Linked DNA regions of Homo sapiens. The protein of the gene in region 1 purifies or fractionates together with the protein of each later gene. This does not show direct contact. Each region holds a gene or a part of one and is shown in the gene's direction. Other genes may lie near its edges. The genes, in order: RHOBTB1, CST2, BPIFA2 and COPS7B.

What was found.
Region 2: the proteins of RHOBTB1 (region 1) and CST2 purify together in Homo sapiens (affinity purification with mass spectrometry; 2 studies listed by BioGRID and IntAct, with this or other methods). This does not show direct contact.
Region 3: the proteins of RHOBTB1 (region 1) and BPIFA2 purify together in Homo sapiens (affinity purification with mass spectrometry; 2 studies listed by BioGRID and IntAct, with this or other methods). This does not show direct contact.
Region 4: the proteins of RHOBTB1 (region 1) and COPS7B purify together in Homo sapiens (affinity purification with mass spectrometry; 2 studies listed by BioGRID and IntAct, with this or other methods). This does not show direct contact.

Annotation. Positions count from the first base shown.
Region 1 is NC_000010.11:60,906,186-60,913,185, reverse strand, and holds part of RHOBTB1 (rho-related BTB domain-containing protein 1), read left to right. Parts: intron 1-1,633; 5' UTR 1,634-1,643; coding exon 1,644-1,835; intron 1,836-2,195; coding exon 2,196-2,299; intron 2,300-7,000.
Region 2 is NC_000020.11:23,822,635-23,831,676, reverse strand, and holds CST2 (cystatin-SA precursor), read left to right. Parts: upstream 1-4,947; 5' UTR 4,948-5,016; coding exon 5,017-5,244; intron 5,245-6,353; coding exon 6,354-6,467; intron 6,468-7,573; coding exon 7,574-7,657; 3' UTR 7,658-7,908; downstream 7,909-9,042. UniProt on the Homo sapiens protein: Thiol protease inhibitor.
Region 3 is NC_000020.11:33,177,412-33,182,965, forward strand, and holds the end of BPIFA2 (BPI fold-containing family A member 2 precursor), read left to right. Parts: intron 1-735; coding exon 736-817; intron 818-2,192; coding exon 2,193-2,256; intron 2,257-3,108; coding exon 3,109-3,149; 3' UTR 3,150-3,186; intron 3,187-3,812; 3' UTR 3,813-4,001; downstream 4,002-5,554. UniProt on the Homo sapiens protein: Has strong antibacterial activity against P.aeruginosa.
Region 4 is NC_000002.12:231,788,480-231,797,279, forward strand, and holds part of COPS7B (COP9 signalosome complex subunit 7b), read left to right. Parts: intron 1-75; 5' UTR 76-91; coding exon 92-253; intron 254-259; exon of another isoform or gene 260-2,694; intron 2,695-3,253; coding exon 3,254-3,329; intron 3,330-5,783; coding exon 5,784-5,872; intron 5,873-7,626; coding exon 7,627-7,829; intron 7,830-8,800. UniProt on the Homo sapiens protein: Component of the COP9 signalosome complex (CSN), a complex involved in various cellular and developmental processes.

The DNA of each region.
Region 1 (7,000 bases):
AGACAGTCCATGTTCCAATAGTCCTAACTGTGAAAAAGAATTCTTCTTAATATTCTTTCTATATATCCTTGTCAATGCCCTTAATCTCATTATCCAAGTTATCATTTTTCTCAATCAGATGAATTAAACAAACACTTGAGTCCCAATTATGTATTAGGCTTTACTCTGAACAGTTTCTTTACCATAGCCATTAAAATCATTACTGACTCCTTAAAAATGACCGCCCACCCACTTTTCTCAGTTTAACAATGGACTTCCATTGCTTGTCAGCCTTTTGGCTAAGATCAAGTGTAGCATCTGTTCTTATTAGTTTAACAATAGACTCCCTCAAAAAGGCAATTACAATTAATTAAAATCTTAAAATCATACATGGCTGGCCTCCTGTCCAGCTGCTACTGGTAAGCAGCCTGCACCCCTGTTTGTGGAGGGTCCTGTCCCTGGGGAGACCAAGCTGGCAGGTGCTTTTTTTCTTCCTCTTGGCCTCTCATCAGCAGCCCTGTTTAAACCTTCTTGGATGGTCTCAGGAAGATTCCAAAGTAACTCTCCTGGTAAAATTATTCTTTGCCATATGTTCCAGATTTCTTGATGAAAACACAGAAGATAATTTTTTTGAATCTTGCTTTATTGTGGGCCCTCAAGAATATCTTTTTTAAGGCTAGGCATGGTGGCTCATGCCTATAATTCCAGCACTTTGGGAGGCCAAGGTGGGGAGATCACTTGAGATAAGGAGTTTGAGACCAGCTGGCCAACATGGTAAAACCCCATCTCTACTAAAAATATAAAAATTAGCCGGGCATGGTGGTGGGCACCTGTAATGCCAGCTACTCAGGAGGCTGAGCCAGGCGAATCGCTTGAACCCAGGAGGCAGAAGTTGCAGTGAGTGGAGATTGCACCACTGTGCTTGTGCTGTAGCCTGGGTGACAGCGTGAGATTCCATATACATATATATATGTGTGTGTGTATATATATACACATATATATACACACACACATATATATTTATGAATTATGAATTTGATTAATACAAATAAATATAAGTTAATTTGATTAAATTTAGACTTAGCAGTTTACTCTTCTTTGACATCAGGTAGTCTTTCAGCCTGCACTTTTGATTATTCTCTAAGTCCCCATAACAGTTTTGAACCTATAGAAAACTGCTTTTCAACAACAGATATTGGCTAATGAGCGATCTTGTGATGAAGTAGATGCTAGCATTGCCAAGGCTACCTATTGCCCAATGTTGAAGTTCAGCCCTACAGGTGACCGGACTTGCTAGCAGGCCAACGTGAGTATCCAGTAGGCTATAAATGTGTGCCAGCTGTCCCGACAGTGGCTGAATGGAGCTCCAGTAGGCAGGTTGTGTTTAGAGAAAACCAAGGAGAAAATAACAGTTAACGGGAATAAACTGTTTGGGGTCAAAATAACAGTCCCATGTTTTTGTACTTGTGTGAGATATAAAAAGAAAACTTGAGTGTCAATTAGGCTTAGTACGAACTTCCAAACATTCTTTCCTGTGCTTGTGCACCTCCAAGGAAGTGGCTGGACGAAGGCAAAACTCCCTGAACCTCTTACGTCTTTGATTGCTCTGGAAAGCCTTGGTGTCCTTACTGTGGTGTTCACTCTCTTCTTACAGAGTTTCATAAATGGACGCTGACATGGACTACGAAAGACCCAACGTTGAAACTATCAAATGTGTGGTCGTGGGTGACAATGCCGTGGGGAAGACGCGCTTGATCTGTGCCAGGGCGTGCAACACCACACTCACGCAGTATCAGCTGCTGGCCACCCACGTGCCAACAGTGTGGGCGATTGACCAGTACCGCGTGTGCCAGGAGGTAAGATGCACAGAGTGTCTTCAGCATCCCTAGGGCACATCATTGCTGGTTGCCAGTCTGATTTTTTCTAAAGGAGGAGCGTGGATAAATTACACATTCAAAACAAAACTAACCTTTTTAGTGCCACGAGAGAAAACAAAAGCAAAATGCAAACCGGAGACTGTGGCTCTGGTATCCTGAATGAGGGTTGAGACAGATGATTCCAGGAAGGGAATTAAGACTTAGCTTAAATCCCGTCAGATAGAATAAGGAAACTTAATGCAAGTGAATTGATGGCACTGAGGGTGCTGACTTGAACACGCTTCTCCTGGGGAACTTCTGACTGACACCGAGCACAGATGCTCTCTCTCTCTCCTGCAGGTCTTGGAGCGTTCTCGGGATGTTGTTGATGAAGTGAGTGTTTCTCTCAGGCTTTGGGATACTTTTGGTGATCATCACAAAGACAGACGCTTTGCATATGGCAGGTAAACCAAGACTAGTACAGCGTGGTTGAGCTTGAATGCAATTTCCTTTTCAAAACCAGCAGCGGGTTTACAAATCAACAAAAACCACATCATATGGCCTTGAAATGTGCTGGGTTCTGCACTGTGTCTAAGAAAAGGAAAAGAAAAAAAAATGGTATTGTTTCCTGATGTCAAGAAAAGAAGCGTGCCCTGCCAATGAGGAAGTACTGTGTTGAAAACAACCAGTGGTCAAGCTGGAAGGTTTGCTAGATTAGGATTCTGTAACACCCTCCAACTGCGGGCTGCTTTGATTGCTGGTTCTCTGAGTAACACTTCACTTGCCTTCTGTTAGAATGTTTTAAGTTATTTTGGCACTTGGTCACCCTACTTCAGAAAGACTGTTTGGTCTTTTCATGACCATATTGGCAGAGTCTAATGTTATTTGCTTTGGATTTTGTGTTATCTGAAAAGTCTATTATTTTTATTAGAAGGTCATTTTTAAAAAGAAAGAAAAATATCTCCAAAGTCCTTCGCAAGACATATTTCCAAAATGAACAGAAACACTAACGTTTATTTTTTTAAAAAGGAGAAAAAAATCTAGTAATGGGAAAACTCCTCTAGAAGGACATTAATATGGGTAGGAACATGGTCAAAGTGCCTTAAAATATTTAGCAACCTCTCCTTGCCACCATAACTTAACGTCTCTCTCAATGAATGGGTTATAGCTGTTAAATTCTGTATTAATGGAGACTTTTTTTTTACCACTTAATTATAAATGAACACATTTCATTTTCAGTGTAGAACGTAGATATCATGGCCTTGTTGTCTCTTCTTAACATCAAACATCATATCACCTTACAGGATTTTATTAGTTAGGTACTCCAAGCACGTGAATTACTCCTTGGTATTGAGATAAGCATTTCTGAAGATTCTTCTATTTCTACAAGCCAGTAGCTCTTTGAACGGACTTTTATTGTCATTTATCTAAGTGGCCTAAAATAATGAATAAACTGCTGAAAGAGTTTGCCCTATTCCCAGGAATTATTTCACACACTGAAAGAATCTGTGACTTAGACCACTTTCTTTCAAGGGGACTCAGAGAGTTATGGAAGCAAAACACGATTTTAATGTCCCCTTGGTAACAAGGACTTTTGAACTTAGTATCCTACATCATAGATAGTTTTCTTTTCCTTGAATTTCCTGGATTTTTTTTCTTTCTATAATGTTGTTGATTGTTATCTTAGGTGCCATTTTGCTTTTTTCTTTTGTCCAATTGTTCTACATGTAAAAATAACAATTATAAATGAACCTGCTTGTAACTGCTGGGCAGTCAGGTTTGTAACACCTATGGTTTTGAGGAAGCTTGATTTGATGACTTTAGGCAGTGTAAGGATAAATACAGTAGATTTCAAAGGACTTTTTTATATCCCCACTTCTAAAACAGTGTCATGAAAATGATGAGCCTGATGATGAGTTAATGGAAATATTTGGGTTTAGAATCTAGAGACTATTTCAACAGCTCAGTGGTTTGTTGCCACTAGAAATTTATGCATTTGTCAATACCTGTGAAAAAATAACAGAAAAAAAAAGAGAAAACAACAACAATGAAATGTATTCATTTCAAACAACGAAATTTAACATGACCCCTCAGCGTAAAGCTGGTGTGGTGGTAATAAAAGGGCTGCTTCATTATCTTGTGAGATTCCTGCATAGCATTTATTTAATGGCACGATGGCCTTCATAGATCCACACTGGGCCCCGTCCAGCTCTCTGACATAGCTGGAGTCATTTTACAATACAACATGCCATACCTGCGTGTGTGTTCCCTCCCAACAAAAATAAGCTGCTCTTTCCTGTGACTCCATCGGTTCAAAGTGCATTGTTCTGCTCCCTTGTCTGTAACATTTGGTTCTGTCAACTGTAACCCATTATCCCTTTGATAGAAACAGGAAGTGCTCCCCCAAGCCAAGTTTGATTCTCTGAGCAACATTGAGGGGCTTCAGGAACACTCCTGTGTTTCTGGCCACGTTCTCCTTAGGGCCTTGCTTTGTGTGCATGTTTGTACCTTGTATTTCCTCTGCCTTTTCCAATTCCTCACAGCCTCCAGGCGTCCTGACACAGACCCCACCTCTAGTTAAAGAATAAAAACCAGAGCTCCTCTCTCTTGCACTCCAGCATCTTTCTGTAAATGCTAAATATGTAATATCACATTGACGTAATGCCAAAAAGTTACATTTTTATGGAAAAAACTGAGAGAAGTAGGAGTTTTTTAATTCACTATAGGTCCCTAACCAGTACATTTCCCGGCTCTGAGAGAGCTGTTTAATTTCTTAATGACTTCAAGTTTTACCTTTATATCATTTGTGAAGGAGAGGAATCATAATTATAGCTTTTACAAACCTTTTTTGTTTTTGCAAAACTTGTTTGGTTTGCAAACCTGTTTTGTGACTGACATTTTTACTGTACTTAGTGAGAATTACAGTTCAGTGGGATGTACTCAAGACATAAACTTTGAGGCATGTGAAATACATTCCCTATTCTTGAAAATGTATTCGAAACCTTTTTAAAATAATTAATTTGATTCTTGTGGTGACAGTGAGAGAAGCCAGATTTAAACCAACATGTTTTAGACCTTGCCTTCGGTTTCCTCTGCTTCATAGCAAAAGGTAGTTAATAAGTTGCCCCTCAAACATTCTTTGGCATGGACAAGCTCTAGTTTGCAGAGAGGATTCTGTGGGATGAGGAGTTGTCAGTGGTAGGCAGTTGGCCAACTTGAATTTGCAATGTTCCTGATGTGGTATAACCACAGTGTTATTGCTCTCTTATGATTTAAATGGAACTATTCTACCCATTCTTTTGCCAATTAGAATAAAAGCTCCAATTTTTCAAAAGCCTACTGTGTGCCAGTCAACACATTAGGTGCTTTGCCAACATTAGTTAATCCTTTCAGGAACTGTAGGAGGCAGAGATGATCTTGGTGCTACCATTGAGTAAAAGGTTGAGTTCTTTTACTACCATAAATTTGCCCAACAAGTGAGTCTCAGAGGCAGATTCAAAGCCACTCTGCCTGACTCCTGGCTCTCACTCTTTCCACTGTGCCAAGCTACCTCAACCTACTGGGACCCTACATTGGTGAGCTGGATTTCTATTTGCTCTTTTGGATTTGTGCAAAGATTGGAACTAGAAGAGATTTCAAAAGGTCATCTGGTTGACCCCATGTCTTCAGGAAGGGAAATCATCCATCTATCCAAAAAAAAGTATTGATAGGAGCCCTTCTATTCCATGGAGATGAAGGAAACAGAGTAGCATGAGTGTTGTAACGCTCTGCACTTTGAAATCTGTCAACCCTCTCTTCTCTGGGGTGAATAACTCCAGCTCTCTTATGGCCTTTTTTCCACCACCTACTTTATATCCACTTTTGGATGAACTTTTGAAGCTCTTTTCTGGATCTTTTAAAATGTCAGGAACAAAACCATACATAGTAACCATGACTTTGATCAGCTGCTCTTTTTTGGCAAGGAAAGCGCCTCTTCTTAAAGGGATGTCGCTCAACTCAAGAGTTGTCTCCTGGAGCTCTTATAAAAATGAAATGTCCACATTTAAGGACTTAGCACTGAAAATATAGGCAAACAGGATGGGCTCTGCCTTTATCAGGAATCTGGCCCTTCAGTCCCTGTATTAGTCTGTTCTTACACTGGTAATAAAGACATATTTGAGACTAGGTAATTTATAAAGAAAAAGAGGTTTAATGGACTCACAGTTCCGTGTGGCTGGGGAGGCCTGACAATCATGGCAGAAGGCAAAGGAGGAGCAAAGTCACATCTTACATGGTGGCAGGCAAGAGAGAGAGCATGTGCAGGGGAACTGCCCTTTATGAAACCACCAGATCTCATGATACTTATTCACTGTCATGAGAATAGCATGAGAAAGACCTGCTCTCAAGATTCAGTTACCTCCCACTGGGTCCCTCCCACGACATCACGACATGTGAGAATCACGGGAGCTACGATTCGAGATTTGGGTGGGGACACAGCCAAACCATATCAGTCCCTTTTGTCTAGTCACACATAGGTAAATAATTGCAGATTTTATTGTTTTTTTTTTCCCCTATAAAATTTCCTTCATTGATCTGTCTGCAGGTCAGAGAACCTTCAGACACTGAATAAAGCCTATGTTGCTGACAGTGATAACAACTACAGTTTAATCAGGGTGCCCCAGGCACCAGGCCTGTGCTACGTGCTGCATGTGTCCTGTCCTGCTTCACTCTTGTGGTGAGCCTGCAAAATAGGCTCATTTCACGGTTGGAGAAACAGGCACAAAAAAGGGCCAAGGTCAGACAGCCAGGACAGAGTGCAGCTGGACTTTCCTCTTGAATCTGTCTGACTCCAAAGCCCATATCTTCCCCATCCACCATGCTGTTGTAGTTTGTGATGATGATGGATGACAAAATTACTTGAAATTTCCTCCTGGTACATTCTGAATCTTACACAGTACTGTGTAGACCCTGAAGACCAGCACTCACCATCTATTACGAGCTCTGATATTCCAGTGTTCCTCTTAAATTCTTTATTCCACAACAAATAACTTAATTCTTTATATGCATCCATTAAGTAGCGGAGCATGAGTCCTTTTGCTTTCAGTAAAAATGATACATCCAAGCAAACCTTCTGAGAGTGAATGGGAATCTTGGCATGTTTTCCCCAAATCATTTAACAAAAACAT
Region 2 (9,042 bases), on another chromosome or scaffold:
GGCCCATAGTTTAGGACCTTCCACATGTCCTAGCAGAGCCAAATGTGTTACCAACATGGGCCCATAGTTTAGAAGCTTCCACATGTCCTAGCAGAGCCAAATGTGTTACCAACATGGGCCCATAGTTTAGAAGCATCCACATGTTCTAGCAGAGACAAATGTGTTACCAACATTGGCTCATAGTTTAGAAGCATCCACGTGTCCACCATGTTTGAGGAGAGGGAGAAAAGAAGGAGGGATAGAGTGTGAAAGAGACAAGCTTGACCCCAGAGAATTCCAGGCACTCCGTAAAAGGGGCTTCTGGGCTTCCCATTTGAGAAGCCACCAAATCCTGTGGCTGTTCAGTCTCAGCTCCTACCATAGATCAAAGTGTTAGTTGCTCAAAACCCAGATGTGCAGAATCTCAACTCTTGGCCAGGTTGTCCTCACCACCTGCACCTGTAGGTGATGCTTTCTGTGTTTGGTCATTTGTTTATTGTAGTATTGCTTAGTGTTCACTTATTATTCATCATTTATTGCAGAGAACTTCTACCACTCACCTAACTTCTCATCCTGCTAATTCAGATAATAGGATCAGTAGTCACCCATGCAGCCTAGGGGAACAGAGCTTTCTCTTTCATCACCTAGCAGAAGGAAAACTTGCCCCCTCCTGGGCAGCTAGACTCCTCCAGGTTACATGGGTGCTGGAGGCCCCAGGCTTGTTCCTCAGTCCATGGTTGCTATCTGGCCCCCTCCTAGTGTGTCCTTAAAACTGTGGACTATAGAAATCAGGGAACAAAATGTTCTGTCATTTTTTTTGAGATGGGGGTTTCACTGTGTTTCACAGGCTGGAATTGAACTCCTGGATTCAAGGAATCTTCCTGACTCACTCTCCTAATTAGCTAGGATTACAGGTGCACCACCTCACCTGGCTATTCCATCATTTTCAAACATGTTGCTACATCACTGGTAAAGTCTGCTCATCTCTGCTGGTCTGAACTCCCAGACAATACGCTTTAAAAAGTAGCCTCTTTCTCCACACGCACAACAGACACAACATTTGCCTAAGGTCATCAAACATCTGGAGCAGCTGGCCAGCTACCCCCACCTGCCACTTCCTATCACTCCATACTGGACATCGCACTTGTACCTCCTCAGAAAAGCAACATACATTGGTATCTTTCCTACTGAGATTAGAGAGGTTGCTGCATCAGGACAGCTGACCCTCCCTGCAGTGCATGCCAGCATCCTGACACAAGATGACCACTGGTGGTGTCATCACATACACGGCACAGATCAGCACTTTGGCCTCCCTCCCTCACACTCCACCCACCAGCAAATTCTCACTATTTGGGTTACCTGTTTGGGAAAAGAAAGAGAGATCAGACTGTTACTGTGTCTATGTAGAAATGGAAGACATAAGAGACTCCATTTTGTAAAAGACCTGTACTTTAAATAATTGCTTTGCTGAGATGTTCTTAATTTTGTAGCTTTGCCCCAGGCACTTTGACCCAACCAGGAGCTCACAAAAACATGTGTTGTATAAAATCAAGGTTTAAGGGATCTAGGGCTGTGCAGGATGTGCCTTGTTAACAAAATGTTTACAAGCAGTATACTTGATAAAGGCCGTCGTCATTCTCTAGTCTCAATAAACCAGGGGCACAATGCACTGCGGAAGGCTGCAGGGACCTCTGCCCTTGAAAGCAGGGTATTGTCCACGGTTTCTCCCCATGTGATAGTCTGAAATATGGCCTGGTGGGATGAGAAAGACCTGACTGTCCCCCAGCCCGACACCTGTAAAGGGTCTGTGCTGAGGTGGATTAGTAAAAGAGGAAAGCCTCTTGCAGTTGAGATAGAGGAAGGCCACTATCTCCTGCCTGCCCCTGGGAACTGTATGTCTCAGTATGAAACCCGATTGTACATTTGTTCAATTCTGAGATGAGAGAAAAACTGCCCTATGGTGGGAGGCGAGACATGTTTGCAGCAATACTGCCTTGTAATTCTTTACTCCACTGAGATGTTTGGGTGGAGAGAAACATAAATCTGGCTTACGTGCATGTCCAGTCATAGTACCTTCCCTTGAACTTAATTATGACGTAGATTCTATTGCTCACATGTTTGTTGCTGACCTTCTCCTTATTATCACCCTGCCCTCCTGCTATGTTCCTTTTTGGTGAAATAATGAAGATAATAATCAATAAAAACTGAGGGAACTCAGACCGGTGCCGGTGCAGGTCCTTGGTATGCTGAGCGCCGGTCCCCTGGGCCCACTGTTGTTTCTCTATACTTTGTCTCTGTGTCTTATTTCTTTTCTCAGCCTCTCATCCCACCTGACTAGAAATACCCACAGGTGTGGAGGGGCAGGCCACCCCTTCAACCTGCATCTCCTTTCCAGTGATAAAAAAAAATGAGAGGATTTCTTGACCTTCAGCTTATCCTCTGCACAGCAGCTCTTCCTGAGTCTGGACTCCCAGCTATCCCAGGAAGGTGGGAGCCACAGAGGAGAACTAAGTCCTACCCTTTGGAGATGACCACTCTGCTCACAAACACCTGGTAAGGGACTTCCCTCTCTCTCCCTTCTCTGGGAATTTATCCCCATTCCCTGTCTAACTAGGAGCCATCCTGCGCAGCCCTGTTTGAAGACCTTCCCTCCATCACCCAGCGGTAAACACCATCCCTGGGACACCTGCTGTATCTGCTGGGATGCATGGTTTTTCTAGGTGTGCTGGATTGACAGTGGTGTGCAATGGTCACTGGGCCTTGGATAACAAGGTCCCCTGTCCTAATACTGAACATGAACACCAATGAGTAATATTGTTCCTGCTGCCGGGTCCTGCTGATGCAGCCCCAGCCACGGCTGAGACCCAGGATCCCAGCAGCTCTGGGTTGACTCTGTCTGACCCTCACCTCCACTACTCCCAGGAGAGTCCTCTGGATGCCATGCAAAGGCCCAGGGTTTCCTGGTGTTTCTCACCAAGCCTTCCACCTCACCACAAGGGCATTTGCCACAGGGTCACCTTCAGGCATGGAGGGTTGGGTTGAGAGAACAAAGGGAGCAGCTGTCTGTTCAGGGCCTCCTTCCATCCTCCCCAATCCTGGAGCCACATTCCAGCACAGGCCCACAGCATCCCAAGCTGGAGACTTTGTCACCCCACAGAGCACTGTGGTGATTAGGTCCTCTCAGTCTGTGGAGAAGGAGAACTCCCAATCCTGGCAATGAAGCAACTTGGGGGCCACTGGAAAGCCACGCTGAGCAAAGGACGAAGACACATCTGGGATTGCTCTGCAGGATTCCATTCCTGGGAATCTCAAGGGCAGGTGACAAAGGAGTCTACAGGACTGGACAGGGGCTGCCAGGGTGGGGTGGGCACGAGGATGAGCTGCAGAGGCAGGAGGACACCGTCTGGGGCAAGGCAGATGTCAGAGGTCTGGACAAAGTGGTAATACAGGTGTATGTATTTACAAAATCTTCCAGGTGGGCACATACTATTAGGCATCTTACTGTATGTAAATTCTACCTCCTTCAAGGCAATTTTTAAAATATCAGGTGGGTCTTCCAAGCAGTGCATAGAGGAAAGAAGCTGGAAGCATGGCTGCCTAGGAGAGAAGCAAGTGAGGCCTGTGGGCTCCCACATTCATCCCTTGGCTTCTGCTCCCTCTTCTGACACCCCCACTGCCTGCCAGGTGTCTCCCTGCACCTTGTGGGCCCCACCCACAGTTACCATGAGACACCAGGTCATTCCCTTCCCTGCTCACATCCCCTCCAGGAGCTTCCTCTTCCTGGAGCAGGCATGTCCCAATCCCACCTCAGGGCCTTTGCACTGGCTGTTCCCCAATGCCTGGGGCTTCTCAACCTCTCCAGTCTCATAGAGACCACCCTGACCAGGGTCCAGTGGTCTCTCTCTAGCCCCTGTTCTATTTCACTTCCAACAGAGTGAGTATAACTCCCTGATCCTAATTGTTGACCATAACCTATCATCCCCTACACACACTGTGTAGGAACGGACTGTACAGTTTCATAGCCACCTGCCACATGTGCCACGGGACACTTGAAATGGGGCCAGTCCAAAATGACTCCCAGGCTAAGTGTAAAAAATACACAGCGAATTTCAAAGATTTACAAAACCCCTCCAACAAAAAAAAAATCTCATTAATAATAGTTCCTATTAGCTGAAATAATATTGTGGCTGTATTAGGTTAGATAAATATTTTAAACATTACTTTCACCCATTTTTTCTCATCTTTTAAAATGCATCTACTACACATTTTCATATGCTCGTGGGTTCATGTCACATCTCTGTGGGCAGCAGCTCTGCAATGTCACCTCTATGGCTCATCATCCAGGTTCAGTATTCAAGCCCTAGACCTCCTGGCACGGGGAGTAGCTGGTGATAAGTTTTTTTATTGAATAATGAGTTATGAAAAGAGAACCCAGTGACCTTTTCAAAAAAGGTTAATTCCCTTGAATTTGGCAAAGAAATTCTCCATAATAGGGTGTGGACAGGGTCTTCTGGAACCTTCTGAAATAACCTCCCTGTTCCAGAGATTCAGAGACCGTGACCAAGTGCTCCTGGATGCCTCTGATATCTGAAGACCCCGGAGGCCAAGCCCTGTATTTTTCACTTTTCTGAGCAAACAGGAGGTCACATTGTTTTCATAGCCAAAGGAGAAGTGTCATCTCTGTGGAGACCTGGTGACTCAAGCTTGGGAGCACTGGGGAAGAGAGGCATGGCTCGGGGAGGCTGCAGTGAGGACAGGAGTGGGGAGGAGGGGTAGATAGAGGAGGAGGCCTGGGAGGGGCAGGGAGAACTTAGGCAGGGAGGGATCTTGTGGTTTCTGAGGAGTGAAAAGAGAGATGGAGAAAGAGGGAATGAGCAGAAAGAGGAGGAGGAGTCAGGGGCAGGTCATGGAGGGGGGTGGGGCTGAGCTGCCAAAGCAGGATAAATGCACAGCTGCCTGCTGGTCTGGGATCCCCGCCTCAGGCTCTCAACCTCCTCTCCTGCAGCTCCAGCTCTGTGCTCTGCCTCCGAGGAGACCATGGCCTGGCCCCTGTGCACCCTGCTGCTCCTGCTGGCCACCCAGGCTGTGGCCCTGGCCTGGAGCCCCCAGGAGGAGGACAGGATAATCGAGGGTGGCATCTATGATGCAGACCTCAATGATGAGCGGGTACAGCGTGCCCTTCACTTTGTCATCAGCGAGTATAACAAGGCCACTGAAGATGAGTACTACAGACGCCTGCTGCGGGTGCTACGAGCCAGGGAGCAGGTGGGTGCTGCCTCCACCTGAGGGGTCCTGAGTCCCAGCCTTGTTTGTTGCCCGATCCATAAGAGCATTCGCAGCACATCAACACTGATACATTCATGATCTAATGCTCAGATTCATTCAGCTTTCCCTGACTCTCTGCTTATGGCCTTCATGCCTAAGCATGCTCCCGGGGGATGGAGACTATGCTGACTCTGGATGGGCTTGATGCTGCTCAGGATGAGATCCAGGCCATGAGGCTCACCCTCCTCCCTGAGTCCTCTCCTCAGGGGCCACACAGGAACTTCGCTTCCTGTTCTGCAGAGCCCTACTTCACTCCCCAAGTCACACCCGTGGGTACAGCCCTTTAGGGCTAATGGCCTTCACCCTCAGGCCGGCTGACCACCCCCTACAGCCCAGGGCAGCTGAGTCCCTGCTGGGGTGGAGCACGCCTGACCCTGCCTCTATGAGTTGATGCAGAGTTAGACCTCAGCCAGATGAGGACAGCAGTTACCCAGTAGAGAGGAGGAGGTGTCAGGTCAAGAGAGAGCTTCAGAAGGGCTATTGGGCCCAGCTTTACCTGCATCCCATGGCAGAGCAGCAAATAGTGACACAGGCTTTAGAGCTCCTCCACCTTCTCTTGGAAATTCAAAGGAATCCAGACCAGCCCCATTTCTCCTCCTGCAGCTGTCAACTGGGACCCTCACCCTGCACGGGAGGTGCACTCCCTGGTGCCATGGTCCCCGCTTGCCTCCACCTCCCTTTCAAGCATGACAATAACTTGGAGTGAAGCACAGGGCATTGCAGACCATCAGGCCCGGACGCCTATTTTATACATGGGTAAACTGACACCCATGGGTAAAAAGAGTCAGTGTTCCCTTGCCCCTGAGCCACAGGTGGCAGAATTCAATGAATCCTTTTACCCAGCACAGAGAAAACAATATTTAAGAGGGGGCATGAGGCCCAGCACCCTGCCAGCTGACAGGAAGAGGGGGCTTGTGTGCCTTGTGTTGACATGTGGGCAGCTCACGAAGCCCCCAAGCAAGTCCAGTGACTCAGCCACAGTGAAGTGCCTGTGAGTGCATGAACTGATGGGGGCGCTGTCCGTGCATCCTGTTTTCTCATGTGTGTAGATCGTGGGCGGGGTGAATTACTTCTTCGACATAGAGGTGGGCCGAACCATATGTACCAAGTCCCAGCCCAACTTGGACACCTGTGCCTTCCATGAACAGCCAGAACTGCAGAAGGTACGTTCCTGATGCGGGTCCCAGGCCAGTCATGCACTGCAGAGGGGTGCGTATGTGTCAGTCTCTGCCCTACACATGTTTGGAGGGTGTGTGTGTGCAGGTGGGTATGTGGGGAGTCATGTATGCATGGATGTATACATGTTCATGTACTTGTGGAGGGTTGTGCATGTAGATGTGCATGTGGAAAGGTGCATGTGTGTACACACATGTGCCAGTGTGTGCAGGGAGCTGTATGGGAGCATGTGTGCCTGTGTGTGGGGATTCTGGGGGTTTGTACATAGATCCATGGGGTTGAGGGGTCCAAGTGAGTTTACGTAGTTGCCTATGTGTGTGCAGATGGGGTGGTGAGGGAGGAGGGTGATGTGTTTGATTTGCTAGGAAGCCTTCAGCTTGGGAATGGTTACTGGGAGATCAACTCTGCCTGCTTTGGGGTGTTGCCTGTTGGACAGGAAGAAGCAGCTGTGGGGCTGTGTGCTGGGCAGGGAGAAGGGGCTCTGTCTAATCCCAGCCTCAGGTACCTGCATGCAGCCACAGACACAATGATCAGATTAGTGGGACCTAGAGGCCTGTTAGCTGGGAAGCCCTGGACCTGCCCGGCTCACCCAACACCAGCCTCTCCAGGGACCTGCTGGTTCTTGTGAGGTCTCCACTCAGGGGAGAGCCACACTCCCCTTGTTACCATTGCCCCATGCCCCAGCTCTTTGAGGCGGAGTTGCCCTGCTCTGGGTTCTTCCCTCTGGCCCCTCTTAGTGCTGGCCTGAGTGCTGGAGGTGGAAGGAGCTGGGGGAAGTGAGCCACCTCCCCATGCCCTGCACCCTTGGGGCTCCCAAGGTCTTGCACAGGCTGATCCTCACAGGGCTGTGCTGGGACAGGACACTGCAGGCTGCGGTGGGGGCCCAATGCCACCTGGTGACTTGGAGCCTTGGGAGGGGCAATGGAACAGTCACTATTCATTCTAGTTCAGTGCTCTGGGACTCAGCAGGGGTGGGTGAGGGCCCAGTGTCTCACCTCCATCCTCCTCACTCAGGCTGTGACATCTCATGCCTGGGTGACTTCCCCTTTAACTGTAACTCACACTGATTGGCCCTCTCTCTTCCCTTTCACAGAAACAGTTGTGCTCTTTCCAGATCTACGAAGTTCCCTGGGAGGACAGAATGTCCCTGGTGAATTCCAGGTGTCAAGAAGCCTAGGGATCTGTGCCAGGGAGTCACACTGACCACCTCCTACTCCCACCCCTTGTAGTGCTCCCACCCCTGGACTGGTGGCCCCCACCCTGTGGGAGGTCTCCCCATGCACCTGCAGCAGGAGAAGACAGAGAAGGCTGCAGGAGGCCTTTGTTGCTCAGCAGGGGACTCTGCCCTCCCTCCTTCCTTTTGCTTCTCATAGCCCTGGTACATGGTACACACACCCCCACCTCCTGCAATTAAACAGTAGCATCACCTCCCTCTGAGTTCTTGGCTGTCTGGGGATGTGCACACAGGCAGGGTTTCTGCAGTTCCTTTATGAAGCCTCCTTGTTCTGCTTGTGTGGAGATCAGAGGAGTATCTGGGACCTGACATGGCCACAGCAAGGCTGTCAGGGGAGCTGCTGCCACTTTTGGAGGCCTGAGCTTTAGAACAGGGAGACAGCAGCCAGGGGCTGGAAACCCAGGCCTTCAGGTGCAGCAGCCTCTGGTGAGGGGGTCAGGGAGAGGAGTGGGCCAGACTGCTGCCCGGGAAGCTGGGCTGCTGCTTTGGTCTGAGCTACTGGTCCAACCAGGAGGAGGGGGCTGGCTGTGTCCACAGGCAGGGCTCAGGCCTCGGTGGAGCTTGCTAGGCTGTAGATTCCATCTGTGCTTGCAGAGTTGAGCAGACTCCAAGTGTAGCAGGATGAGCCATAGACAAATGTCCTCAGACACCAGATTAAAGAAGGAAGAGGTTTTTATTTGGCTGGGAGCATCAGCAGACTTGCGTCTTAAGAGCCAAGCTCCCGGAAAAAGAAATTCTTGGCCTTTTTATAGGCTTACAGCTTTAAGGGGTCCACATGAAAGGGTCATGATACATCAAGCAAGCGTGGGAAACTTGACTGGGGCTACATGCATCAGCTAACAGAACAAAAAGTTTTACAGTGCTTTTTTCATACAGTGTCTGGAATTTACAGATACCACAAGTAGTTTGGGTCAGGGGTTGATGTTACTATTATTACTTTTTTTAACTCCTAGAGCCAGGTGGTGGTGCCAAGGTTGTCTGGCTATTTATCTTACTTTTGTTTTTTTCCAACCTTTTGCTTTTTCTCTCCTCCTGTCTTGTGAACTAGGCAAGGTGGAGGGAAGAGGGCAGCAGGAGTACCAGTGGTCTCCTTCCTTACAGGGACTGAGCTGCTCTCATCAAATGCCCTAGACACTAAATAGATAGCGATCGATGTGTGGTTCTTTCCACAAGAGACTTTAGGCCCCTACATGGAAACAAAGAACACAAATTTGTGTGTGTGTGTGTGTGTGTGTGAGTGTGTATAGCTGATTGGGAAAAATGCCACCCAGACAAAAGATGGGCAACATCACACAGAGAAAGCAGAGACTGCTGTCATCCATCCTGGG
Region 3 (5,554 bases), on another chromosome or scaffold:
GGGCTCTGGAGAACTGATTGGTGATGACAGACAAGGTCCCTGTTCTTGCGGAGCTTACCCAAGGGAAAGCTAAGCTGCCGTGGATCTGTGTCCACATCTGTGAAATGACACCACTCTACAGCTCCAAATCCTCTCAGCGCTTTTCTTTGCACTTTGGATCCAATCCAACCCAAATTCAGTCCATCGGTAAAGAACGCTCCAGGGAAATGAGTCCTGCAGAAAGCATTACCCTTAACTGGGCACTGTGATAGCAAAGCTCTCTCTTAGGTAAGCAGTCAGGGAGGGGTGCCCTGAGGAGGTGGCAATTATACTAAGAGTTGAAGGTGGGAGGAGCCAACTTTGGCAAGATTTGTTTAGGTACCACATCAGGGTATGTTTGGACCCTTAATGTTTAGGTACCAGGTTAGGGGATGTTTGTACTTTACTTATTCGGTATCCTCAGGGCCCAGCTAGGTTCCTGGTGCATAGCTGGTGCTCTGTAAATACGGGTTGAATGAGTGAACGAATAAGGTCTCTGCGCTGAGAATCTCATGAGGCACTGGGGTGAGCCGCTGGTCAGATGTGGGAGTCTAAGTGATGATCCATGTGGATGGGAGGCTCTGTCTGTTAAAGTGTCTCCATGTCCCTGGGGTTTATCTGACTCCACAGTATTTCCCGCACCGCCCCCAACTTTTTGGCAGTTCTCCCATCTCTTGCCCACTTGACCAGACTTTAATAGTTCCCTGTGTTTTCCAGACACAGCCAAATCATCAACAAGTTCGTGAATAGCGTGATCAACACGCTGAAAAGCACTGTATCCTCCCTGCTGCAGAAGGAGGTGAGTCTCCCACTCCTTGGAGCCCAGATCCAGGCCTGGTGGGGGCAGGTGGGGGAATTTGCAGGCCTGGCTGTATCCTCTGAGCACTTTTCCTTCGGAGGTGAAAGCTTCTCCTTAGGAGGTCAGCTGGAGCTTCCTCCTCTACTAATCAGCCTGGTGGGTAGCAGGGTAGAGCAGAGGCCTGACATTAGCTGAAATTGCCAGGTCCCAAACTTGAGCCTCTCACCATATCCACGCACTACCAATATGCTTTTGTAGCTAACATCTTCAACACAATTTTACTTAAATATGTTTCTTTAGAAGCATTTATTTTTAAAAATAAAACTTTATATCCCTATCATAAATAGAAAATTAATATCACATATCATACAATCAATGGACTTATAAAATAGTTTTAATTTTTTTTCCATCTGTGCATCATCCAAAACCATAGGTACCATGTGCAGGATTACTAGGCCCAAAGTTGCAGAGATTCTAAATCAGTCATTCTGGAAGCAGACCCAGGAATGTGGGTTTATAAAAGAAAAATCCTCCGGATGGCTCTGTGACCCACTGAACCGGAGTTTAGTTATATTCCAAAAGCGATCCTCCACCAGCTTCAGCCTCAGCTGGGTGCTTGATAGGAATGCGGAATCTCAGGCCACACCCCAGACCTGCTGAATTGCAATCTGCGGGGAACTGTGTACACACAGGAGCAAGAGATACTCCGCTCTACAACCTCAGGGCAAATGCCTCAGGGCACCATTTGACCCTTTAAAATTCCAGGGTTCCAAAGTTCAACATGGGAATGTTAACAATCTAGAATGTAGATTTTTGAGGTCCTAGAATTCTAGTGTTCTAAGGTGTTAGGATTCTAACACCCTAGGGTTTCCAGATTTAAGACTGCTGGGATCCCATTGTTCTAAAATCCTAAGGTTCAGGCCAGGCGCGGTGGCTTATGCCTGTAATCCCAGCTCTTTTGAAGGTCAAGGTGGGCAGATCACTTGAGGTCAGGAGTTCAAGACCAGCCTGGCTAACATGGTGAAACCCTGTCTCTACTGAAAATACAAAAATTAGCCAGGCATGGTGGCATGTGCCTGTGAACCCAGTTTCTTGAGAGGCTGAGGCAGGAGAATCACTTGAATCTGGGAGGCGGAGGTTGCAGTGAGCAGAAATCGTACCACTGTACTCCAGCCTGGGCAAGACAGTGAGATTCTGTCTCAGAAAAAAAAAAAAAAATACAATAAAACAAAATAAAATCCTAAGGTTCAAAGATTCTAAGATCCCTAGAAATGAGCTCATCTGTGGGTGGCAAGCAATTTGTTCTCAGCTGAGAAGAATGATCTGTTCTTCCTCCTACTCCTGACCCTCCTCTTCCTCCTTTCTCCGCTGTCAGATATGTCCACTGATCCGCATCTTCATCCACTCCCTGGATGTGAATGTCATTCAGCAGGTCGTCGGTAAGTCAATGGGGAAGTGGGGACCTTCTGAGGCAGGCATGGAGCTCTGTGCCCACCCCATAAGCAGTTCTGGTCAGGGGACCCTGGAGAAGCAGAAGGACCCACTGTCCTAAGCAAATTGGGAGCCATGGCTTCCCCTCCACAGGCACCCGGGGGCTCCCTTTGGCTTTTGGGTCTACAGGCATGGCTGGGGTTGCTGGGGAGAAATGGAGTAAGTAAAGCTGTCAAGACCCTGGAGGTGACCCTTCTATGAAAATAGCCACAAGTCAGCCAGGCGCAGTGGCTCACACTTGTAATCCTAGCACTTTGCGAGGCTGAGGTGGGCAGACCACTTGAGTTCAGGAGTTTGAGACCAGCCTGGGTGACACGGTGAAACCCCATCTCTACTAAAAAATACAAAATTAGCCAGGCGTGGTGGCATCCACCTGGAGTCCCAGCTACTCGGGAGGCTGAGGCGGGAGGATTGCTTGAGCCTAGGAGGCGGACATCGCAGGTAGCCGACATCATGCCACTGCACTCCGGCCTGGGTGACAGAGTGAGACCGCAATCTCAAAAAAAGAAAAAAAAAAAGAAGAAGAAGAAAGGAAATAGCCACAAGTCCAGTCCCTTAGGCAGTCACTTTGTGCTCTGTACACACTATCTCACTGGATCCTTGCAACAACCCTGTGGGGAAGGTACTGTCATTGTACCCACTTTACAGATGAACAAACTGAAGCTCAGAGAGGTGGAGCAACATCCCTGGGGTCCCACAACTGTCAGGTTACCGGCTGGAGAGCGGCATCTTTTGGAGTCTGGTCTCTATTCAATTCCAGTGGCAGAGACTAAGGCCTGCTATTGATTTTGTTTCTTCAGATAATCCTCAGCACAAAACCCAGCTGCAAACCCTCATCTGAAGAGGACGAATGAGGAGGACCACTGTGGTGCATGCTGGTGAGGAGCCAGTCTCTGTGCCCCAATGCACAGGGGCCTATGGTGAAGTAAAAGTCAAGCGTGGCTTCCCTTATTTTTGTGTTAGAAGACTGTGCCTTCATCTCAGTCATAGATTGAGCCCTGGCCCCCATCCCAGGCTAGGCCCTGATTCTGGTCACACTCTGAACACTGAGCCTTAATCACTGAACTCTGATTCTGGCCCCAGACTGAGCCTGGATCCTAGTCACAGACTGAGCTTTGATGCCAGTTATTGACTGAGCCTTAGTCTTGGTCACAGAATGAGCCCCAACCTTGGTCTCAAATGGATATCCATGATTCTGATCACATATTGGGCCCTGAACCTGGCTCCAGTAGTGGCCTCAATCAATCTTTTCACATCTACCATTGTTCTGAAGGAGGGTGAGGGGAATGAAGATGAGTCAGTGCCAGGTGCTAATGAAAGACCCCAAACCACAGGTGCCAGTTTCTTCTTCCCAGGACTTAAACCGCATGGGGTATTGTGGGAAAGAGCTGGGACACTGGAGCCAGGTCAACTTGGGTCCCATCAAGTGCCCAGTGGATGACTGACAGCTGGGTGTAAGGGCAGCCTAGCAGCAAATGTCCTAACCCCCTTGGTCTCATTCCAGATTGGTTCCCAGTGGCTTGCCCCACCCCCTTATAGCATCTCCCTCCAGGAAGCTGCTGCCACCACCTAACCAGCGTGAAAGCCTGAGTCCCACCAGAAGGACCTTCCCAGATACCCCTTCTCCTCACAGTCAGAACAGCAGCCTCTACACATGTTGTCCTGCCCCTGGCAATAAAGGCCCATTTCTGCACCCTTCTGTGTGGCTTGTTGCATTCCCTCCATTTGGGATTTGTTGGTGGGAACTGGGGAGGGAGGTTGGGGGCTGCAACTAGGGTGGGAGAGACCTGGATCCAGAGCTAGAAGGCTCAGTGGGAATATCCAGCCACATCTCCTGGTTCTATAAAGGGGGCCACTGAGACAGAGAGGGCAACAAACTAGCCCAAGTCACACAGCCAATCTGTGGCAATAGCAGACCCCTGATCTATCCATTCATGCATTCAACAGGTATGTAGTGAACACCTACTCTGTGCCAGACAGGCAATGGGAACTGGAAAGTCACATTCTGGGGACAGCCCCACCCAGCACTTTCCTCCATTCCTCTCCAGGGGCCCTGAGGATTCTTGGAGAATCAGGGGACACCTAGCCTGACTGGAGTCAGGAGTATGAGACAGAGTGATGCAGGGTCAGAGGCCTGTGGCCCCATCTCCACCTGCCCTGTTAGCCCTGCTGCCCTCTAGGGGTCCCACTGGAGCAGAGATGTCTTTTCCAGGTGGTGCTGAGAGTTCTCAGTCTGTAGCACCCTCACCCACCCCTCCCATCACCTGAGAGCCTGTGCACCCACTTGCCAGGCTGCCTGGAGGCCCAGCCTCCCTAGTGAGGTCGAGAACCCTGGGATGCTCACCTATCCTATGGAGACCAGCTTCTCCCTCCACCCAAGGCCCCTCCATCCACACCCCAGAATGCAGCTCGGCCCATGCTGCACCAGGCTGTGGCAGAGACAGCATCACGCTGCTCACGGCAACACGTCATGGGGGACTGCCTTTGTGCGGCCCACGGGCTCCATTGATTCCTTACCACACCCATGCACCAGGAGAGCCATTATCACACCCATTTGACAGAGGAGGACTCTGAGGCTGATGGAGGCAAAGTGACTCCTCCGGGTCACACAGTGAGCAAGAGGCAGAGCCAGGCTTTGAATCCACAGCTGTAGGACCCCTGAATTTACTACAAATGAAGACATTGAGGCACAAAGAGGGCCCAGGCTCAGAGAGGTGACATCCTGGCTTCCAGGCACTTTGGCCGCTACTCTTGCCAGCCTCCAGCAGGCTCCACTTCCCTGGCCCAAGACAGATGAGGTACTCTGGGTGCTGTTCTTCTCCCCCAAGTGTAGACCCTCGGCTCTTCCTTTGCTCTAGAAGGGGCAGGACACTGTCCGCTCCCAACAATCGCGTTGGCCTCAGCAGAGATGCAACACGGGCCACACACCAATGCACACCATCGCCTCAGGATCCCAGCAGCCTCTCCTTTCCAATAGGGAACCCAGCCCCAGGAACCTTTGCCGATTTTGCCAAGCAGCCATCTCATTACTCTGCACAACTCTAGGAGGCAGGAATGTCTCTTGTCCCCACGAGAAACTCAAACTCAGAGAAGCCAAGGCCACACTGAAGCCTGCACCCAGCTGCTAATTCACTCGAGGGCCTCCTCTCTGATGAAGGCAGCCTCACTGAGTCAGGTGACCTACAGGGTCCTTTGATTCCTTGAAGTTGCCTAGAGAGCCTTGGACCAGCAAGCTGAATCCTCTCC
Region 4 (8,800 bases), on another chromosome or scaffold:
TTGATTCAGCACTGAATAGGCACAGACTTTGCAAAGGAGAAGGAAGAATGACTGACACAATTTTCTTTTGGACAGATTTCAAGGCCAGAGAATGGCAGGGGAACAGAAACCCTCAAGTAATCTCCTGGAGCAGTTTATTTTACTAGCCAAAGGTACCAGTGGCTCAGCCCTCACTGCTCTCATAAGCCAGGTCTTAGAGGCTCCCGGAGTGTATGTCTTTGGAGAACTTCTGGAGCTGGCCAACGTGCAGGAGGTAAGAACGGTTTGCAAACAATTTCTCTTTATTCTAAGACTCTGTAATTCTCCAGGTTTCCAAAGAATTTCAGTGCTGAAGTATTGTGAACCTGTGAGGTACCCTATTGTGAGACAGATGGGAATTGGTGGGGCAGAGGGAGAGATTGAGAGAATATCCTTGGCTCCTTTTATCCAGTATTTTTATCTTACCTTGGGTAAAATTAGATTGTTGCTAATAATAACCTAAAAGATAGTAAAAAAGTCAAATTGATCCTGATAAATTAGAAAAGTAGTGCTGTAAGCATGGGCTGTTTAATAGGAGTAGATTCATGCATTCTTAAGGACCAGAAACCTCCAGTGCAATATCGATAAGGAAGATTGGTCAGGGACACACAGCAGAAACATACTGCTATTGAACATAAGATGGACATGAATAGGAGTGTATTGTTCTTGAGGAAAAGGGCAGTGTTGTGCTAAATGTGTTAGATGTGTTAGATATGACATGAAAAGCTAGGACATAGTTCATTTTACTTGTTTGCTTGCTTGTTATTAAAACCTTGGATATCCAGTTTTGGTCATTGTGCCTCAAAAATGAGAAGATCCATTGAACAGAAGGAACAAAGAGATGTAAAGCAATCTATACTTCTCAACCTCTACTTTCCAATTTGAACATTTTTATTTATTTATATTTATTCACTTATTGAGAAAAGTCTGTAAGCATCTTTATTGTTTTGTGGGGTGGAGGCTGGTGCTCAGGAGCTTTTGGCGGATTGGTGGGGCAGGTCCCCTTCCTCTTCATCCTCACAGGCTTCTGGCTATGCAGACTGGTGCTGGCTCTGTGGAAGCTGCCATGCATAGATCTGGGTGATGGTACTTCTTGTGGAGCATGTGCTGGATGCTGTTGAGAGTGGCCCCGGAGTTCTTGGTGGTGGCGATTTGCATATAGGAGGTGGTTTGCTTTTGTTGGGCAGTTTATCACCTTCATGACCACCACAACACCTTTGCTGTTGGCTCCACACCCACAGTCAGTTTTAACAGGAGTTTCAGTGAATCAGTTAGTTGTAACCAAAGGAGTTGCCGGCCTTCAGTTTATTGGATTCGGTGCTGTGTGTCTGCCTATTCCTCTTGATGGGGAAACTGGAGCAGTTCCCTACAGTCCAGCCATTTCAGGTGCCCAATTATGTCTCCTCTACCTGTGATGTTCAGAGATGAGAAGAGCCACTTTTACTTTTTCACTGTAAATTTTTATTTAATGTCAGCCTTGCTTGCCGAACTATAAACTCTGTGAGGAGGTCTGTAGTGCTCACCATTGTTTCTTTAGAGCTGAATACGTAGCCTGACACACAGTAGGCTTTCAATAAAAATTTAATTTACCAGAAGTGGAAAATGAGTTTTATGAAGAAAATTTCAGAAAACTGAGTTCATTTTTCAACACAAGAGATGACCAAGGGGTAATATGTTCCTTCAGGTTCATGAACAGCCTGCATGAATATGCCAAGTAGTTGTTTTGTAACTGTGGAAGATTGGCTAAGAGGAGATGGATGGAAAGTAAAGTCAGAAAGACCTTATTGATTTAGGCCAGTGGGAGAAGTGTTGGAGTATCTGCTCTGGAGAAAATGCTCTTTTCCGGCTAGTTTTGTTAATTATGTTTCTGAAAAGGGGGGCTAGATTGGATGGTCTTTACCAGGTTTCTTCCCCTTCTGATTCAGGGACTTCAGGAGGTTTGTGGTAACCTGAGAAAGTAGCCTGAGGTATTATGGTGCTGGAGTTCTCCATAGGGTGCTTAGCAGACCACCTTTATCTCCCCATACATTGCGTTTTTCCATATGTGAGCTGAGAATAAGCTGGTTGCCTTTCAGTGATCTGAAATTATAGATGCATTTCTTGGAAGCTTTATTTTTTTTAATGGCTAAAATTGAGTAGTATCGCTATTGCTGTCTGTAGACTACCACTTGCTATTCCTGTTTAGAGTTTACTGGGCTTGGTAAGTTGGAAGGGTAACAGGAGCACGTTTGTGATTTTTTTTTTTTTTTTTTGAGACGGAGTCTCGCTCTGTCGCCCAGGCCGGACTGCGGACTGCAGTGGCGCAATCTCGGCTCACTGCAAGCTCCGCTTCCCGGGTTCACGCCATTCTCCTGCCTCAGCCTCCCAAGTAGCTGGGACTACAGGCGCCCGCCACCGCGCCCGGCTAATTTTTTGTATTTTTAGTAGAGACGGGGTTTCACCTTGTTAGCCAGGATGGTCTCGATCTCCTGACCTCATGATCCACCCGCCTCGGCCTCCCAAAGTGCTGGGATTACAGGCGTGAGCCACCGCGCCCGGCCCACGTTTGTGATTTAAACAACAACAACAACAACAACAACCAGTTAACGTAATTGACAGCAGAGAAGTTCCAGGCAGAACAGTGGCTCTTTCGTTTTTCTTCTACACATGGCTTTTTGCCATCAGCATCAGTGAAGAGTAAGTAATTTTAATGAACATTTTGATTTGGGGCAGACTGATACCCTGGTTTTCTGTCCCAGCCTGGCTTTCTGTCATACCTTATGATGTGCTGGTCTCTCCCAGGGTTCATAGTCCACGTGTAGTCCTGAAACTTGGAACCAACCCTGAGCTTTGTTCACTTTGGGTTGGTGGTGGCTCATGCCATACCTACCAAGCTGGTATGTAGATAGGGCTGCTCCAGTCTTTGTTTTAATGCAAACAGAATCTTGAGAAGATTTGAACTCCTTCCAATGCTTAATGCTTTGTATGTGTGTGTGAGAGAAAAGCAGTTCGTTGGGCATGCTGTATAGAAAGTAAAACATTCCTGAGAGAGAGAAATTAAATTTGGGGCTTTAATAATCTTGTTTATTTTTTCCCGAAGAACCAGAGTTGGTAGAGACCCCAGGGGCCAAGTAATCAAATAGTACAGAATAAACAGCCATGGCATCTTTGACACATGCTCACCCGTCCTCTGTTTGAACACTACAGTGATTGGTAGACAGTTTGGTCTGTGGTGAACTTTTTTTTTCCTCTTCAGCTTGCGGAAGGAGCTAATGCTGCTTATTTGCAGTTGTTGAACCTGTTTGCCTATGGGACATACCCAGATTACATAGGTGAGTTGGTGAAGATCCTTCAAAAGACTTGTGTTAATTATGTTGCTCAGTTTGGAAGACCATCAAGGTTTGAGATATAAAGCATGGGGTAGTGGGGAGACTTCTTGACCTGGCTGCCTCCCATTTTGCTGTGCCCGGTGGGTGACCTCACAAAGGGAATGTTCCTTCTCACCTTTTATATTCTAGTGGGTCAAATGGGGCCTGTGTGTGCTCATCCACAAATGTAGCCCTTGTTTGTTTTCCAGATGAGATTCTTGAGGACTGGTGTTTGTAGGGCTCTTGGAGTGCTGTGAAGTGCAGAATACCCACCTGTAGAATGTTTCAACATTTTAAATATTATCAAAATAATACCAGCATATTGAAGAAAATTTGGAAAATAGACTTTTTAAAAGTCACTCATAGGCTGGGCGCGGTGGCTCATGCCTGTAATCCCAGCACTTTGGGAGGCCGAGGCAGGCAGATCACTTGAGGTGAGGAGTTTTACACCAGCCTGGCCAACATGGTGAAACCCTGTCTCTACTAAAAATACAAAAATTAGCTCGGCGTGGTGGTGGGCGCCTGTAATCCCAGCCACTCCGGAGGCTGAGGCAGCAGAATTGCTTGAACCTGGGAGATAGAGACTGTAGTAAGCTGAGATTGCACCGCTGTACTCCAGCCTGGGCAACAGAGCGAGACTCTGTCAAACAAACAAATAAATAAATAAATGTCACTCATATGTTGCTCAGACATTTGGATGCTGGACTTTTTTGTGCCCCTTATGTTTGTGTTTTGTATTACATAGGTACAACTATGTATACAGTTTTATGTCTTGCTTGTTTCTTCCCACTTACAAACATTTATCCATATTTTAAGTCTTTTTAATATTTTTAATATTTCATAATCTACTTAGCTCATTTTCTGTTGCAGGGCATTTGGGTCATTTTAAATTATAATCTGAAGTATTAGGTTGAGGTATTTGTATGTCCAAACACTAACTTACCTTCTACCCAAAGCATTTTTTTCTGGCTTTCCTACCCTTTTTTAATGGTATGACTGTAGCCTGATACTCAGGGCCTTCGCTGCGATATCCCTGACTTCTTCTTTCTCCCTGGTCACTTCTACTTTGTGCTGCTGTCAGACTGGACAGTTTGCCAGTTCCTGGTACACCACATTTTTTTCTGACCTTCCCTTTGTTCCAGGGAATGTGTTCTGTTTTTCTGTCCTTGCTTACTAAAGAGGCAGCATTGCACAGACTCTGTTAGCAGACTGCCTGTAGCCAGTCTGGCTCCACTTCTACTAGTTGTGTGTTCGTTGACAAATGAAGTAACCTTATGCAGCTCAATTTCCTCGTCTGTAAAGTGGGAGTAACAATACAAGCCCATTATTCCTTACCTACACTCCTCGAAGTTAGATGTTTCAGAATTTAGAATTTTTGGGACTTTAAAAAGGTAATATGATGCGCATGCCTTTTTATGTAACACTCCCAGAGGAATGTGGAAACAAGTGGGATAAAAAGCCTGTCTCCGTACAGGTTAGAAATTCCCACCAGGTGAATTTCAGCACCATGCTTAAGAAAAAATCAGTTTGGATATAGTTTTTTGGAATCCAGAATTATCGTTAAGGAATTGAGGACACTTGGAGTCTTGCGGGTTGTTGTGAAGATGAACTGGATGTGTGTATGTACGTGTGGATCTATGCAATCCACAAGATGTAAAGCTTGCTATTTATGTTAGCTGCTGCAGCTGCTGCCCTTGCTGTTATTATCATTTATGGTTATTATTGAAATTTTGCCTCTTTCTCAAGGCTCAACTCAAACTCCATCTCTTCCATGAATTCTTTCTTTTTATCTTCTGTACTTTCCAAATGATACTGTTCTCTTTCCCTCTCCCCTCCCCTTTCATCTCTTTCTCTTACCCCTGTCTCCTCCCCATCCCTCTCCTCCTCTCTTCTAGTAGCTTGTACCTTTCTTCTGGTAGTTCTGCCTTGGATTTGTAGCTATGGAAACATCTGATTGTAAGACCGAGGACAAGTCCAGGGCCATGAAGTTGCACACCTCCAGGTGGTTGGTGGCCCTGGAGTTGTGCCATGCAGCAGCCCTGGCAAAGCCCATCTTGTTCATCCTTGATTCTTCTCAGTACAGAGCATTGCACACAACAGATGCTCGATGAAGATATGTTTAATTTAATTGAATGTCACAAGGGGCACAAATAGTACTCCATTAAGATAATTGCCACATCATTTTGCTTGTTTGCTTTTTAGGAGACTAAACTCTGTGTTTGTAGAAACTGAGTCTTTTCTTCTTTGGAAGTACATAGTCTTCCAAAGAAGACAGGAATATTTGTCAAATGAATAAGTGCAAAGTCATGATAGTGATTCAGTAGTAGATTTGGTTTGGGGAGTTGGTGAGCTTATTCCATAAAAGAAATCCTAATTTTATTTTGTGTCTTGATTTTTGTGGTGGGTGGGACTGAGCAGCCAACAAGGAGAGCCTGCCAGAACTGAGCACAGCTCAGCAGAACAAGCTGAAGCATCTTACCATCGTGAGCTTGGCATCAAGAATGAAGGTACGGTACTGAGCCTTCTCTTGTCTTCCTCCTTACCCCAAGTCAGCTGTCTCATTGACATCAATGAAGGAAGTCCCAGCTGCACATAGGAGAGTCACATCATAAATGCATAAAATTTGCTTGACAGAGGAAAAGATAAAATGGTGTAGAAAAGTACTCCCCATTCCATACAGGAAAAGTATGCCCAGAAGTGATTGACTCAGCAGGTCTTAGTCCTGGCATGCTGTGGTGCCGCATGTGGCATGATCATTTTGCCATATTAAGGGGAGACTGCTGTTAAAGATATACATTTTTCAAATAGCAAGGCATCTCAAGGCAAGTTAACAGCTTAATCTGTTGCTCAGTACACAGTGAACTATGCCCATGCTGGAGGAAAAACTTGCTATGTCGGACTTGCTAGATTTTTTGTTGTTGTTGTTGTTGAGACGGAGTCTCACTCTGTCGCCCAGGCTGGAATGCAGTGGTGTGATCTCAGCTCACTGCAACCTCTGCCTCCCAGATTCGAGCGATTCCCCTACTCAGCCCCAAGTAGCTGGGATTACAGGCGTGGACCACCCCGCCCGGCTAATTTTTTTTTTTTTTTTTTGAGACAGAGTGTTGCTCTGTTGCCTGCGCTGGAGTGCAGTGGCGCAACCTGGGCTTACTGCAACCTCCACCTCCTGGGTTCAAGTGATTCTCCTGCCTCAGCCTCCCGAGTAGCTGGAATTACAGGCACCTGCCACCATGCCCATAATTTTTATATTTTTTAGTACAGTCAGGGTTTCATCACGTTGGCCAGGCTGGTCTTGAACTCCTGACCTCAGGTGATCCACCTGCCTCGGCCTCCCAAAGTGCTGGGATTACAGGCATGAGCCACCGTGCCCGGCCTTTTTAACTTAAAAAATTTTTTAAATTGAGACAAGGGTCTCACCATGTTGCCTAGGCTGGTCTCAACCCCCTGACTTCAAGCGATCCTCCCATCTCAGCCTCCCAAAGTGTTGGGATTACAGGTGTGAGCCACTGCACTTGGTTTTTTTGTTCTTGGATTGCAATTTCAGTTGCTGAAATCATTTTATCTGATCTAATGGCACATTTCTGATTCTCAGCCTAGCATTTCAGGTGGGAGGCCTATTTTGTTGTGAAATGAGGACCTGACCTTTTTTCTTGTACTGATTGTGGACTTCTCAAGTGTAGTAAAGAATGTTGGTACAGCCCAATAAAGAACTATTGTTGGGGAATTCATATTGGTTGTGTCTGAGAAAACAGATACAAACTTCAGGGTGACATCTGAGCTGGCAGTACCCATTGGCCACCTATAGGTAGATATGCTGGCCTGCAAGTTTTTTTTGTTTGTTTTTGCACTCTGCTGGGCAAGTAGCCAGCTCTTTCCAGTGACTGGGATCTGTTGGAGATTTATGGTGATCTAGCAAAGTCTGAAAGCTTCCAGAAGGTGGCAGAGTGGCATATACTCAGTAGTTCCCTTTCTCTCCACTGGTACAAGTTTTTAGGATCTCTACAAGTATGCTGCAGCATGTGAAATCTGAAGGCTGGGTGAAGCCAAGGAGGCAGAGAACCAGGAGGTTGCTTTCTTAGATGTTGGGTCTTCTAGGTCTCATGGTTCATTTATCCACCTCTTGTTGCCCTAGCTATTAATAATTACCACTAGCCTGCGTTTCCCGAGCCTAGAGGCAGCTGTTGGCTATGGGAGTAATACCTGCATTTTCGCTAATGCTTGCCAGATGGTTTTTATAATGATCACATGGCCTTATCTACAGTGTATCCCCTACTCCGTGTTGCTGAAAGACCTGGAGATGCGGAATCTCCGGGAACTAGAAGACCTTATCATTGAGGCTGTCTACACTGACATCATCCAGGGCAAGCTGGACCAGCGAAACCAGCTGCTGGAAGTGGATTTCTGCATTGGCCGTGACATCCGAAAGAAGGATATCAATAATATTGTCAAGACCCTGCATGAATGGTGAGGCTAAAAGGAGGAGGGGGATATCTAGCATGTCTTTTGTGCCTCTCCTTGCAAAAATGTGATTCCCTGGTGTCAGCTGAGGGTTTGGGGTGGGCCTGTAGCTACCTGGGAGCTGGGGCTTAGTGAGCCGGAGAGTGGAGCTACATTTGTGATCACAGCTGTGTGATAACAGGAGTCATTTCAGGCCTCCTGGTGCCTTGGTTGTAAAATAGTTCTTTCCTTAAATGCAACTGGGAGCTATTTAAAAGTGGGCTATAAAATGCCCAGGGTTAGCAGGTGGAGCCTATGTGTCCTAGCTGTGTGAGGCTAGTCCTGCCCTTTCCAAACTCACGCTCAAAGTTTGACCAAACTCAGGAAGGCTAGTGTTTGTAAGATTCTTTCTTTGTTTTTATTATTTTTTCTATCCCTGTTGAAGTTAACATGTTTATAAGATTCTTCGGATAAAAGAACTTACGTTCAAAATCAGTAACATATTGGGCTAATGTTTGTAAAACACCGTGAGGGACATGGAAGACAAGGAGTGGGTCATTTTAACTTGGAATACAGACTCATACAAAGAATATCTGATAACTATACTCTGGTATATAAAAAGCATTGGGACATTTGTGTTTTCTCTGTTTTAATGGAATTTGATATTTGTAAGAGCTGTCTCACATTCTACGAGGATTCACTGTGGAGTGATTTAAATTATTTGGGGCTTATAAAGCCAGATGGACTGATTGGAGAAGTTTTAGCTCAGTTTTGAAGGAAGGCCAGGGTTAGAGTATACCTGGAGGTGAGGAGAGTGTGTTCCCAGGCAGGCACGTGGCATGTTGGAAGCCATGAAGCAGACCCGGTGAGCTTTGTACACAGGTTCGGGAGGGAGAGAGAATCTCTGCTCATCCCCGAGAGAAGCATATCCAGAGAGGAGCAGTGCCACTTTGACTCCTTGGGGCCTGATGTCCCCTGAGTTTCCCTCACTTCAGCTA